2 linked regions of the Homo sapiens genome follow. The gene in region 1 interacts genetically with each later gene. Each region holds a gene or a part of one and is shown in the gene's direction. Other genes may lie near its edges.

What was found. A genetic interaction does not mean that the proteins touch.
Region 2: of EGF (region 1) and RPS6KA5, changing one enhances a phenotype caused by changing the other (phenotypic enhancement), as found in Homo sapiens cells (one study listed by BioGRID).

Annotation. Positions count from the first base shown.
Region 1 is NC_000004.12:109,957,879-109,964,974, forward strand, and holds part of EGF (pro-epidermal growth factor isoform 1 preproprotein), read left to right. Parts: intron 1-1,433; coding exon 1,434-1,559; intron 1,560-2,988; coding exon 2,989-3,111; intron 3,112-3,984; coding exon 3,985-4,107; intron 4,108-5,294; coding exon 5,295-5,420; intron 5,421-6,522; coding exon 6,523-6,659; intron 6,660-7,096.
Region 2 is NC_000014.9:91,057,642-91,064,705, reverse strand, and holds the start of RPS6KA5 (ribosomal protein S6 kinase alpha-5), read left to right. Parts: upstream 1-4,064; 5' UTR 4,065-4,271; coding exon 4,272-4,374; intron 4,375-4,581; exon of another isoform or gene 4,582-4,688; intron 4,689-7,064. UniProt on the Homo sapiens protein: Serine/threonine-protein kinase that is required for the mitogen or stress-induced phosphorylation of the transcription factors CREB1 and ATF1 and for the regulation of the transcription factors RELA, STAT3 and ETV1/ER81, and that contributes to gene activation by histone phosphorylation and functions in the regulation of inflammatory genes.

The DNA of each region.
Region 1 (7,096 bases):
TCTACCTGCATTCTAGGTATCTGCCCTTACGCTCAAGCTTGCTACTGTATTTCTCATAGTATTTTACAATGGTGCTATTGTTTTTAAAATGGGCAAAAAATAAGGTGCAAAAGAGACAAAAATCTCATTAACTTTTTGGAAAGAGATATGCAGTTGTCCCCCAGTATCCGTGGGGGATTGGTATCCCCCAAGATACCCAAATCTGCAGATGCTTAAGTTCTAATATAAAACGGTGTATTTGTATATAACCTAGCCACATCCTCCCATATACTTTAAATCATCTCCAAATTACTTATAATACCTAATACAATGCCTACATCACTTCATTCCTGTGAATTCAACATAGTGCTTGGCATGTGGCAAATTCATGTTTTGCTTTTTGGAACTTTGCTTTGTGGAATTTTTTTTCCCAAATATTTTCAGTCCTAAGTTGGTTGAATCCACAGATATGGAGGGCCAACTGTAGGTGTTACTAGTTTAGCCCTTGATTCTGGCTCTGAAAATCCCAATGGTACAAAATTGACCACTTATTCAATATAGCTGGCTAATTCAACCCAAACACCCAACTCGCTGAGCAGATTTTACTGTTTATTATGGAATATTTGGAACACGTGGGACACTGGCAGCAATAACTACAGAAATTTGAGGAGCAGAGATATGGCAATGGTATATATTGAGTCTGAAAGATGTTCATTAAATAATGATGTTAAAAACAGCTAAATAGCTTACATATCTAACCTATAAATATTACACTTAAAAAGTATTCTTGGCCAGGCACAGTGGCTCATGCCTATAATCCCAACACTTTGGGAGGCTGAGGTGGGCAGATCACTTGAGGTAGGAGTTCGAGACCAGCCTGGCCAACCCCGTCTCTACTAAAAATACAAAAATTAGCCAGGTGTGGTGGTGTGCACCTGTAATCCCAGCTACTTAGGAGGCCAAGGCAGGAGAATCGCTTGAACACAGAAGGCTGAGGTTGCAGTGAGCCAAGATTGTGCCACTGCACTCCAGCCTGGGTGACAGGGGGAGACCCTGTCTCAAAAAAAAAAAAAAAAAAAAAGTATTCTTAGGTTTGAATCTGTTTTCATTTCCTAAGCAGATTATTTCATTTGCAGAATGTGTGCTTTTTTGTGATAAAAGTACATTAGAATGAAAAAGCTAATAAGTAGTGTTTAGTATTCGCAACCTAAGAAATGACATCTCCAGCTAATCAGGATGCCCAATCCTGAGAGGTTTTGGAGAAGTAATACAATTGGAGAAAAAAGTGGGCTTCGGGATGCTGGGGAATCTGGGCTCTGGCTAAGTTTGCCTCCGTGAGAGATGCAGCTGTAGACGTTGTAGGGAGGTAAGACCTCTTAAGAATCAGGAAAAGATTTAGCAGTGTCCTCTGTCAAAACACGGCCCCACTCCAAATAAAGCATCTTCTCTTTTAGAGCAGAAACTTTGCAAATTGAGGAAAGGAAACTGCAGCAGCACTGTGTGTGGGCAAGACCTCCAGTCACACTTGTGCATGTGTGCAGAGGGATACGCCCTAAGTCGAGACCGGAAGTACTGTGAAGGTAATGACTGGAAGTACTGTGAAGGTAATGGAAGAGTCGCTGCTTGAGGGGAGGAATGCTCAACTGAGCCAGCGGCTTGTCTTCAGTGGGCCAGCCAGAGACTCAGTGGAAAACCAACTTCAAGTCCATTCTCCCCGTCCCCCACACAACCCCTGAAGACTATTTTTTATTTATTTTTTCTTGTTTGTAAAACCTTTATAATACTTTCCTATCTTCATATCTTGTGTTTCTAGATCAAACACTGAGAGGATGCTTAGGGGTTGATATAAGGCAGGGATTCTCTAAGTGGATTCTACCAACCTCTGCGTTTGTGTGCAAAATTTCAGTATGTGTACATTTTTAGGGGAGTGGTTTCATAGGGATCGTAAGAGTCTCAAAGAGTCTGTGACTCCTATCTTATCCCAAGAAGATCTAGTAGGAAGCCTGGGAAACTGAGCCAGGCTGGTTTGTCTAAGAATCCTCCTGTTTTGAGATTCTGGACCAAGTGCAACGAACTCAGGAGAAATACTATGTCCTTTTTCCTGGAAGGTGCAGTAGTTTAGTGATGAAAAGAATCCAATGGCTGCAGCACACATACAGTGGAATTAGCTGGGGTGAGACCTCAGGTAAATCTAGCATCTGCCTGTTAATTATAACCCCCTGCTTACATGGGACCAATGGGTGAAAGCCATGGCATAGAGATAGTGAGCTGGAAGGCTGGGGCTTCAGCCAGAATAAAACTGCTGGAGAAGGTTTCCACATTTAGGGAAAGGGCTCTGGTCAGTCTTGAAGGTTGAAGAGCACAATAGGAAATGTCCTAAGCTTGTAAAGAGCTTTCAAGAGTCCCTAACTGAAATGGCATGCTATATCTTTTCAAGGGAAATAATACTACCTTTTTCCCAAGGGTTATTCTAATATGAAAATCTGTATTTGAAAGTATAAGCTGGGCCAGGCGTGGTGACTCACACTTGTAATCTCGGCACTTTGGGAAGCCAAGGCGGGCAGATCACTTGAGTCCCAGAGTTCAAGATCAGCCTGAGCAATGTAGCAAAACCCCATGTCTACAAAATATACAAAAATTAGCTGAGTGTTGTGGTGTGCACCTGTAGTCCCAGCTACTCAGGAGGCTGAGGTGGGAGGATCACTTGAGCTTGGGAAGCAGAGGTTGCAGTGAGCTGAGATCGTGGCATTGCACTCCAGCCTGGGTGACAGAGCCAGACTCTATCTCGGGGAAAACAAAAGCATAAAATGTGACAGAATAGAAATGGCTTTTATCATCATTTAATTGACTTATTTTACCCTTTGCTAGAGTATGGAAAACAGACTTTCCATGATCAATTACAGCATATACAAGTGTGAGATACCCTGCGTTGTGATGACTTATTAGTGATAGCACAATTTATTTTCAAAAATAGCCATTTGAATGTATTGTGCTGTTGTCATTGTGCAGATGTTAATGAATGTGCTTTTTGGAATCATGGCTGTACTCTTGGGTGTAAAAACACCCCTGGATCCTATTACTGCACGTGCCCTGTAGGATTTGTTCTGCTTCCTGATGGGAAACGATGTCATCGTAAGTTATAGCAACAAGTATTTATTGCATTAGTTTTCTTCATTTTCAATATGTTTCTAAGGTGGCTATGATCTGGGTTGGTGATCTTCAATCAGCAGTGTGCATCATAATTACCTTTGAGTTTTATTTTGTTTGGCTTTTTAAAACATGGATGACTGCCAGCCTGGGCAACATGGTGAGACCCTATCTCTACTAAAAATACAAAAAAAAAAAAAACTTAGCCAGGCATGTTGGCCCATGCCAGTGGTCCCAGCTACTGAGGAGGCTGAGGCAGAAGGATCACTTGAACCAGGAGGAGGAGGCTGCAGTGAGCCGAAATCAAGCCACTGCCCTTCCTGGGTGATGGAGTGAGACCCTGTCTCAAAAAGCAAAACAAAACAAAAACCATGGATGACTGGACTCTACCCCAGACCTATCAAATCAGAACCTCTCAGGTTGGGAAACAAATCATCTATAATCTATGTATTATAGGTATTTTCCTGTTTCTTTGTCTGTATTACCTTATATTTCATTGTCTATCTCTTTTTTATTTTAATTTTTTAATTTTTAAAAATAACTATTGGGTACTACATTTCATTGTATATCTCTAAAGGATAGGCATGTAAAAAACATAATCATGATACATTATTGTATCTAAAAAACTTAACTATAATTCCTTCCTATCATTTAATATCCAGTTAATTTTCAGGCATAACCACAATACCATTGTTATGCATTAAAAAATTAAGGCTAGGCACAGTGGCTCACACCTGTAATCCCAACACTTTGGGAGGTCAAGGCAGGAGGATCACCTGGCAATATTAGCAACTGATTGCAATAAATTTTTGCAAACCCGATTTAACACTAATCTTGACCTTGTTCTTTATTAATTAGAACTTGTTTCCTGTCCACGCAATGTGTCTGAATGCAGCCATGACTGTGTTCTGACATCAGAAGGTCCCTTATGTTTCTGTCCTGAAGGCTCAGTGCTTGAGAGAGATGGGAAAACATGTAGCGGTGAGTTTATTTGCTTTATTTACCTTTTGTTTGTTTGAAAACATACATTTGCTCAGTGACATCTAAAAATTGATCTTGTTGTCAAGGAAGAATTGATTTTCCAATATTGTATACTGAAAGATATTGTTACAACAGATTAACATAGATTTAAATTTAGTATTTTTGGGTTTTTGGCTTTTTTGTTTTTGTTTAGACAGCATAGCGTCTAACTTATGAGCAAGGGCTTTGAGGCTTGACAGCCCTGAGGTAGCATTACCAGTTACTAGCAGTTTTGATTTTGGTCTAGATACTTGCCCTCTCTTGGTCTTTGTTTCTTCAACTGCAGAGATACTGATACTTGCCACCTTGATTAAATGAGACTTCAGATGCAGAGTGCTTAGTCTGTTTCTTGCACCTAATAAACACCTCTCTACTTTTATCTTCATAGAGACTTAAGTATATAGATAACTGGATGTAACTCAGAATTAGCAGAAGAATTGTGTGTGTGTTTTTGATTTTCTAATAAAACAAAGCCAAGCAGCTAAAAATGTGTGAGAGAAAAAAATTACTAGGAAGAGTTAGACCAGCTGCCAAACTCATCAAATGGATTTTTCATTCTAGACAGCTGCCAGTGCACTTGCTCCTGAACTCATTGGTAGAATAAGAGGACAAGGGCCACTGGAATGTGAAGGATTAACATCCAAGATGTTGGGTTATAGGGAAGGAGGGTAGTGTGACATTTTGATTTTTATCTCTGAAAAATAACCTTGATTGCAGCCATATGAATGATTGTGGAAATGTTTTAAAAAATCAACATATGGGCTGAGTGCAGTGGCTCATGCCTGGAATCCTAGCATTTTGGGAGGCTGAGGCAGATAGATCTCCTGAGGTCAGGAGTTTGAGACCAGCCTGGCCAACATGGTGAAACCCCGTCTCTACTAAAAATACAAAAATCAACCAGGCATGGTGGCGGGTGCCTGTAATCCCAGCTACTTGGGAAGCTGAGGCAGGAGAATTGCTTGAACTTGGGAGGCGGAGGTTGCAATGAGCCGAGAGTGCCATTGCACTCCAGCCTGGGTGAAAGAGTGAAACTCCATCTCAAAAAAAAAAAAAAAAATTAACAAATGGTTGACTCGCCCCCATCCTTTGATGAAAAATAATTATATTTTGGATGACGTAGCATCATTACTAAGCAATTGTTTTTGTAGGTTGTTCCTCACCCGATAATGGTGGATGTAGCCAGCTCTGCGTTCCTCTTAGCCCAGTATCCTGGGAATGTGATTGCTTTCCTGGGTATGACCTACAACTGGATGAAAAAAGCTGTGCAGCTTCAGGTTAGTGCTGTGGTTGTCTGGAACTGTGTCCCTGAAAAAAAATTCATGAAAATCTTTTGTTTAGAAAGATGGAAAGTTAACTGCTTATGGTTTTGTATTTTTGAAATGGAAAAAAAGCAAATCACATTGTAAATATGAATAATATGAGTAATAACAATATAACTAGTAACCAGGCTTTTAAAGACTATTTCTATTCTTAATTAGCATCCGGCAAAGATTTGCCATAATATCAGATAGAATATTTTTAGTATATGAGAAAGTCATGACAAGAATAGTCTTAAAACACTTTATAGTTAAGAGGCATTTAATAAGTATTTGTTGATTGATTTGATTTTTATCTCTCTACTGAATATAATTATAACACTGACAAATTCTGTCCTTTTAATGTCAAAATTCAATATAAAGTTGTACGCTTCAGCTATTTTTTTTGTCTTCTGATATTACCTCTCTTGCATCCTTCAACAGCCATGGAAATTCTAGATTTATACCAAATTGATTTAATATCTCCTGAAGGTTCATTATGTTTTAAACATATAATGCTCATAATGCTATCATGTAATGATGATCCTGTATACCTTGCCCTAGTGAGACCCCAATACTGTTAACTTCTCAGGGCCTTCATTAATATAGTGTAATCTAAATCCTTAAAATTATCAAGGGTCTTGCTATTAACTCAAATCATTGTGCCTCCCTTTAAGAAGTGCCCAGGCCAGGGAAAGTTACTTATTCGGACATGAAAGTATACAATCTACTAATATTAGTGTTTCAGTATGTGTGAATCAAGAAGATGTATAACCCTAAGACTTGCATCATTTAGCTATGGTGTTGGTTATTTAACGCTGTCTCTTTCTGTAAGTAAGCAGCTTTTAAAAGCAAATACCTGGAGAGGGAAGAAACCAGAGATGAAATTCTGGCAATATGTCACCTCCTGGAAGAGGACATCCTCTTGCCTGTCTTCACCTATACCACACTAGAGGGAAATTAAGAAAACAAGTACTGTAGAAATTGGGTAAAAAGGTACAGTGAAAGGGAAGAGTCAGAGATGCCTCTTAGTTTCTAAGGCACGTTTTAAATTCAGCCATATTTGAAATTTGGTTAACAGGACCACAACCATTTTTGCTGTTTGCCAATTCTCAAGATATTCGACACATGCATTTTGATGGAACAGACTATGGAACTCTGCTCAGCCAGCAGATGGGAATGGTTTATGCCCTAGATCATGACCCTGTGGAAAATAAGGTATGGTTTTGTTACTTGAACAGATGTGGACATGCTTTAAGGACAGAGTAGAGGATTTTATCCTAACAAATGACCTGGCCTACTTGAAAATCCTCTGCTAAGTTCTGAATGATTAGGCACAGAACAAGTTAAATATAGATATTGGAGTAACACTTGAGAAATTTTAAGGACTTTTTTGCCATCATAATGCTACCCTAGTCCTTGCTACGATTAGCCGTTTTATTGGAAATGATCACACAGTTTAGTTTTAGATTTTCAGTTTAGTTTCCTCTTTGGAGATGAGGATGGGAGACTAGCACAGTGTCATGCATATAGAAGGAGCTTCATAACCAGGTTTTTTATTACTTGCTGGTAGTGAGAGGAGTGGGAGGTTGAGTTTGGGGCATAGGAAGTATGGATTAGTAATTTGTGTTTTACATATGTCTTTTGAGGGAGGA
Region 2 (7,064 bases), on another chromosome or scaffold:
AAACTCTCCAGGTTTTCCTTTTCTACCTCTAGCTCCACCTTCTTATTCCAACTTTTCTTTTCTTTTTTTTTTTTTTTTTTTTTGAGACAGAGTCTGACTGTGTCACCCAGGCTGGAGTGCAGTGATGCGATCTCAGCTCACTGCAACCTCTGCCTCCTGGGTTCCAGTGATTTTCCTGCCTCAGCCTCCCGAGTAGCTTGGATTATAGGCATGCACCACCATGCCCAGCTAATTTTTGTATTTTTAGTAGAGATAGGGTTTCACCTTGTTGACCAGGCTGGTCTTGAATTCAAGCGATCTGCCCATCTCAGCGTCCCAAAGTGCTGAGATTACAGGCATGATCCACCGCACCCAGGCTTCTCCCTAGGTAATCTCATTCGTACCTCTGGCCTCAAATGTCATCTATGTGCCAGTGATTCCTAAGCTTACATCCCTATGCTAGACCTCTCTTCAGAGCTCTAGACTCATATATCCACATAGCTACTTAATTTTGGCCCTGGATGTCTCAAAATTAAACTCTTGATGTTCTCTCTCATATGTGCTCTTCCTTTAATTTGTCCCTTTCATTATTAAATGGTACTGCCATCCTCTTCCAGCCACTAGCTGCTCACGCTAGAAACACTGGTGTCATTTCAGATATTTCCATTTTTCTCACTAACCAAGTCTAATCCTTCAAGTTCAAAATATAAACATAGAAATGTTCCATTTCTCTCCATCTCTACTGCACCCACTCTCATCTTTTGCCCAGATTACAGTGATAGCCTCCTAACTGGTCTCCTTGTATCCCATTTTGCCTTCTCCAGCGCAGTCTCCAAACACTAACTTCAGTGACCTTCTGAAAATACTACCACGATTATATCATTCCTGTGTTTAAATTCCTTCTACTGCTTCCCACTTCACACAGGATAAAGTCCAAAAATATTAATAAGAGCAACCACATACTTCCTGACCGGGCCTCTGCCCACCTCCTGAACCTCATCCCTTGCTTACTGCATTAAGGCTCCACTGCCTTTCTCAATCTCTCAACCGAATAGGCTCTTTGCCTGCCTCAGGACATCTTCCTAAAATTTTGATCCCTCCATATTACACATATGAAGTAGTATAAGGCTAGATTATGCTTTGGTAGCAAATAATCCCATCTAACTAGCTTATGCCTAAAACGGTGTATGTATTGCTCACATCACAGTCTGACATAGGTCAGGTGGCTCCTTAAAGAATTAAGTGGAAACTCAGGGGTTCAGAGTCCTCCCAGTCTGTGGCATACCCACATTAAAAATGTGGCCTTTGTTACAGCAGTTGAAAGAGAAGAGTGTGAGTGATTATGCAAGGAGTTTTCTGGTCAGGCCTGAAAATGTTATATATCATACCAATAGGATCTGCCCATACCCCATTGGCCAGATCATAGTCATATGACCCTAACCTAACTGCAAAGGAGGTAAGAAAAAAAAAAAAAAAGTCTTCCTGTGTGTCTAGGAAGAGGAAATGAGATTGGTGAACATCAGGCTACTTTTTGCCACATCCTGGTTAAAACCTACTCATTTTTAAAGTCTCAGCTTAAATAATACTTACTTACAAAGGTCTTCCAGCTCCTCCAACTTAAATTAGGCATCCCTGATACATTCTATTGTAGCACCCTGTAATTTTCCTTTACAGCATGATCACAATGGAAAGTTTATATTTCTTTATGTGATTAATATTTATATCTGTTGCTAGACTGTAGGCTCTATAGGAGCAAGGACTGCATCTGTTTTGCTCCCACTGTGTCTCTAGCACCTATTACAGTACTTGGTATATAACTGGTATAAAAGTTTTCGAGTGAACAAATGAACAGTTGCACACAGTCATTGCCTGGCTCCAAATAGCACATGACTTTTGCAGGAGAAAGACAAGTAAGTAGGCAGTCATGGTTTAGTGTGATGATAAATGTTCCAGGCAGGTAAGCCCAGGGAGCTGTGAAAGCAACCTGAAGGAACTTGCAAGGCTTCTGTGTTTTGTCTTTCACAGCAGTCGAATCCAGGAGTCTGCAAACTATGGCCTGTAGGCCAAATCTGGCTCATTGCCTGTTTTTTAACTGCCCTTGAGCTAAGGATTGTTTATATATATATATATATATATATATATATATATATATATATATATATATATATTTTTTTTTTTTTAGACAGAGTCTCGCTCTGTTGCCCAGGCTGAAGTGCAATGGTGTGATCTCGGCTTACTGCAACCTCCGCCTGCCAGATTCAAGCAATTCTCCTGCCTCAGCTTCCTGAGTAGCTGGGATTACAGGCGCCCACCACCATGCCTGGCTAATTTTTTGTATTTTTAGTAGATTCAGGGTTTTGCCATGTTGGCCAGGCTGGTCTTGAACTCCTGACCTCAGGTGATCCATCTGCCTCAGCCTCCCACAGTGCTGGGCTTACAGGTGTGAACCACTGCGCCTGACCTGTTTTTATATTTTTAAGTGATTCAAAAATAATTAAAAGAAGAATATATTACGATACATGAAAACTATGTGAAATTCAAATTTCAATGTCCATAAAAAATATTCTATTGGAACACAGCTACTTCTTTTATTTATTGTCTATGACTGCTTTTGCGCTACAATGGCAGAGCTGAGTAGTTGTGAAAAAGGTCATACAGCTTGCAAATCCTAAAATATTTACTATCTGGCCCTTAATAGAAAAAAGTGTGCTGACTCCTGATCCAATCCATGCTTAGTTTAAAAGATCACATCTATCTGAATTACGTCCAACTGTACATCTTTAAGTTTCTGCTTTTTCCCATTCTCGTGTCTGCTACTAGAAATCAGGTTCCCTTTAGTTCTATCCTTGCAGCAGGATTCCTGCCCTGCTATCTCTCTCCTCTTTTCAGTTCATCACTGTGTACTAAAAAAAATCTGCACTCTTCAGCACAGCATCCCTAGTTCCCCATTATCTTACCACACCTCACCTTGTCAGCTGTATCTCTTACATCATACTTTCATCTAACCTTATCAATCACTTAACCCACCCTTGCCTTCTCTGCTGTAGGCCAATGCTCACAGTTACTCTCTCTGTGTGGAATGTCTATTGCTGGTATTTCTCTCTTATCCATCCTTTACGTTGGTTATCTCAAATGCCTCCTTGCCCTAAAAGCTTTCCCCAGTTCCTCGTCTGGGAATAATTATTGCCATCCGTGCGAGATTCTCTAACGCTTTGTACGACTGCTTTATTTCAAATTCTGCTTTATAGTTCTTTTGTGTACACACACAGATTGTTTCTCACGTTCTATTGAAAGCTGCTTAGGGGAGGAATTGTATTCTATTTTGTTAATCTCTGCATCCTTTCGGCGCCTAGTAAGAGTCTTGTACGAAACAGAAATGTCTCTCCTTCGTAAAATTCCTCATCGGGAGCTGGGACTGTGAATTTTTGTAACGTTTAAGAACTATCTGTTATTTAAGAACAAACACTCTGCTTAACTTGTTTAGGGTTCACTAGAGCGAGTAAGACCTTTTTAGGGCACGCCGTCTCGCTGGTTGTCACACACGCATGGATCGCTGCCGGGACCCTTAGGTTTGTCTGCAAACACGTGGGTGATAAGCGCTACCCTCCAGGCCCCTCCTCTGTCCACGGTGATTGGCGGACCAAACGTTCCAATCATCCCTCCCCGCCTCTTTCGGCAGTAGCCAATCAGAGACCCCGAGCGCCTCCTGACTACTAGACACTGTTTACTAACAGATCGAAGCTGGGGAATAAGGGGTGTGACCGTTCTGGGGAGGTCAGGGAAGGGAAGGTCTTGACTGCGAGTGCGCACCAGAGGAAATGGGCGGGGCAGAGCTTTGGGTCTCACCAATCGGAGTGGCGGCGCTCCTCCCTCTCCTGCCTCCCCGCCAAGCAACAACAATTCGAGGAGCGAGGCGGGGAGGCTCGTGAAACGTCACAGCGTACTGCCCAATGGGAACCGGCGTTGGCAGACGCGCGCGCCCTGTGTCCAATCAGCGAAGGCGGCTCGAATGGCTCCCTTACCTTGCTGGCTGTGGGCGGAGCGGCCTGAGGAGGCGGCGGTGGAGCAGGGGGCGGTTTGGTTGCGCGGTACTAGCGGTGCCCGCCGAAGGGGGAGGAGGCGAGGAGCGAGCCGTGCGGCCAGAGCGGGAAAGAGACTCGTCTTTGCGTCCGAGTTCTGGAGCCGCCGCACCCCGACTCCTGGGGCCGCGGCAGCGGCTGCGAGGGGACGGGCGTCCGCTGTCTCCTGGGTTCCCCTCGTAGCGACCCGCGGGATCGGAAAAAAAGGAGAAGATGGAGGAGGAGGGTGGCAGCAGCGGCGGCGCCGCGGGGACCAGCGCGGACGGCGGCGACGGAGGAGAGCAGCTCCTCACTGTCAAGCACGAGCTGCGGACTGGTGAGCGACCCCGCCCTCTGCCGGCCGGGCCCGGCGCGGGGGCGCGCCTGAGGGCACGCGGGTGCCCGCGCGGGGCTGGGGGCGCGGGGCCGCAGCCGTGGGCGCGGAGGGGCGGGCCTGGGGCGGGGCGTCGCGGTCGGGGCGCGTGCCCCGGGGGTCCCGGGAGGTGGGGGCGCGCCTTGGGGGAGGCGGCCGAAAGTTTTCCCCAGCCCGGGAATGAGCGGCGGGCACCAGGCATCGGGGCCAGCGCAGCCGCCGACCGCTGCCCGTGGCACGCACCTCCGAGGATGTCGCTGCTCCCCCTTCCCGCACAGGTGACACACGTGTGTCTGCGTCCTGTCAGGGCGAAAGGTGCGCCTGCCTCCGCGTGGGGCGAGCGGCGCTTTGTTTTGGAGAGTGTCTCCCTCCTCCGCCCCTCTGGTCCCCGCGATGGGGGGTCCCGGTGGGGCTCTGTGGAGCCATCCCCTAAGGTGCTGGGGTCCTGTAGGAGATAAACGGGAGGTTTCGCCTCGGGCTTTTACCGAGTCCAGTCTAGAGACAGGAACAGGAATCGCCGGCTCCAGGGATTGAGTGCCTTTATTCTCACTTATCATGAAATACTATACTTGGCCTTGAATTTCCTTCAGAGGTCCCTGGAGATGATGGCTTTAGAAATTTAAAGCTCCAGGTAAAAGGAACTAACGAGCAGGCTTCAGCGCTTACGTTCTAATGTTTGAGATCACTAGCGTTGTCCTAAGCTTTATAACTAATTAAATGTATTCGTGGTGTAGGTTCAGGTTGTTCATTTTGGAAAATGCTTATTCAGACCAATCAGTACAATTTGGATTTATATTCTTGGAGCCCAGTCTCGTATTGTAGATATATTAATACTTTTTTCTCTGAACAGATAGTACATTTTAATGAGTCGTTCGTTATTACTAGATATGTTTGTGAGCGTTGAAGGTTTTTGACAGAGCTGCTTTGGCATATTGGGATTTTTTTTTTTTTTTTTCAGACAGAGTTTCGCTCTTGTTGCTCAGGCTGGAGTGCAGTGGCATGATCTCGGCTCACCGCAGCCTCCGCCTCCCGGGTTCAAGCGATTCTCCTGCCTCAGCCTCCGGAGTAGCTAGGATTACAGGCATGCGCCACCATGCCCGGCTAATTTTGTATTTTTTGTGGGGGCGGGGTGGGGGGGGCGGTCCTCTCCACGTTGGTCAGGCTGGTCGCGAACTCCCGACCTCAAGTGATCCGCCCGCCTCGGCCTCCCAAAGTGCTGGGATTACAGGCGTGAGCCACCGTGCCCGGCCGGGTTATTATTTAATTGTGAAGGCACAAAAGCTTAAACGGCAGGATTCAGGTGTCCACTAGTACATCTTGTTTCTGTTTTGAACAGATTGGAAAGTTAGCTCTGTCCGTCAGTTCTTTCAGTTTTTGTTATTTCTACTGAGATTGCCTATAAGCATTCCATTGGGTGCCAGTGTGGTGACTTAATTCAAGAGAGATGTCAAATTCATGCTTCTTAATTCAACATTTGTAAACATTGTTTTTTTGGTCATTGTGAATCTGTTATACATCTTGAGCCAGCTGTTCCATATTTTTGAGTTCCTAACATAACCTGTATGAATTCAGGTGATTTGGTTTTTCTTCTCTCAATTTCATAGACAACTGATATTTTCAAAAGACCCTGACATGGTTTACTCAGTATACATTTATTCGGATTTGTGCCACACTCAGTGTCAGGTGCTTTCTGGTGTGAAGATTTTGAATTTTTTTCTTGTCTTACATAACGATCCACTGATTTATATGTATGGAATCCTACTGTACAGCAAAAGCTACTTGAAGTCATATGCTTCTCAGCCATCGACTGTGGTGCAACAAGCAGCTTTTTGCTAAATGACCAAGGAGCAACCTGCTTGTTATTAGTAGTTAACCAACTGCTTGGTTTCTGGATTTTGCAAACAATGCTAGTTTTGTAGAAAACAATGAGTACTGCTTTATTTCCCCCTCTCTTCTAACTGTGTGAATCATCAGCTTCAAGTTCGCATTTTAGAAATTTTTCTGATGGATGGTGAGATTATACTGAATTCATTAGTACTGTTAACTGTCAAAGGAAACGAACAATCATTTTGATTTATTACTGAACACTGGAACAACTGACCGGATATAGTGGTCAAAAACACTGTTAAAATATAACTTGAAAGAGTTGCTCATCTTCAGCCAACTGCACTTCTTTCAGCACATGATCTATAATAGGCACCAGAGTAATTTGATCTGATATGGTCCCGTCTCAGAATGTAGATAAGCATCTAGTTATATCAGGCTGGCAGTTGGTGGTGGCTCATTTGTGCAGAACACTTTATTGTATTCCATAGGATGAATGAAAAAGCAAAAAACGTCCCATGAAAGGACATGGAGTTGGAAGACATGATTCTAAATCCCGTCTCTGCAGCTTAATATGTAGACATCGGCAAGTCACTTCACCCTTTCAGATTCACATCTTTAATCTATAAAATGTGAGAATTGAATGAGACACTGTTGGAAAAGTGCTAAGCGGGTTGCTTGGCATATAGTGGGCCCTTAGGAAATGTTGGTTGAATGTATATATAAAAATCATTCCATAATAGTATCTTATCTTGAAGTGTGTGAATTAATCCAGTGTAATTTGGGAAACAAATCACTCATTTAGTGTTTAGCCTATGTCACATTGCCTG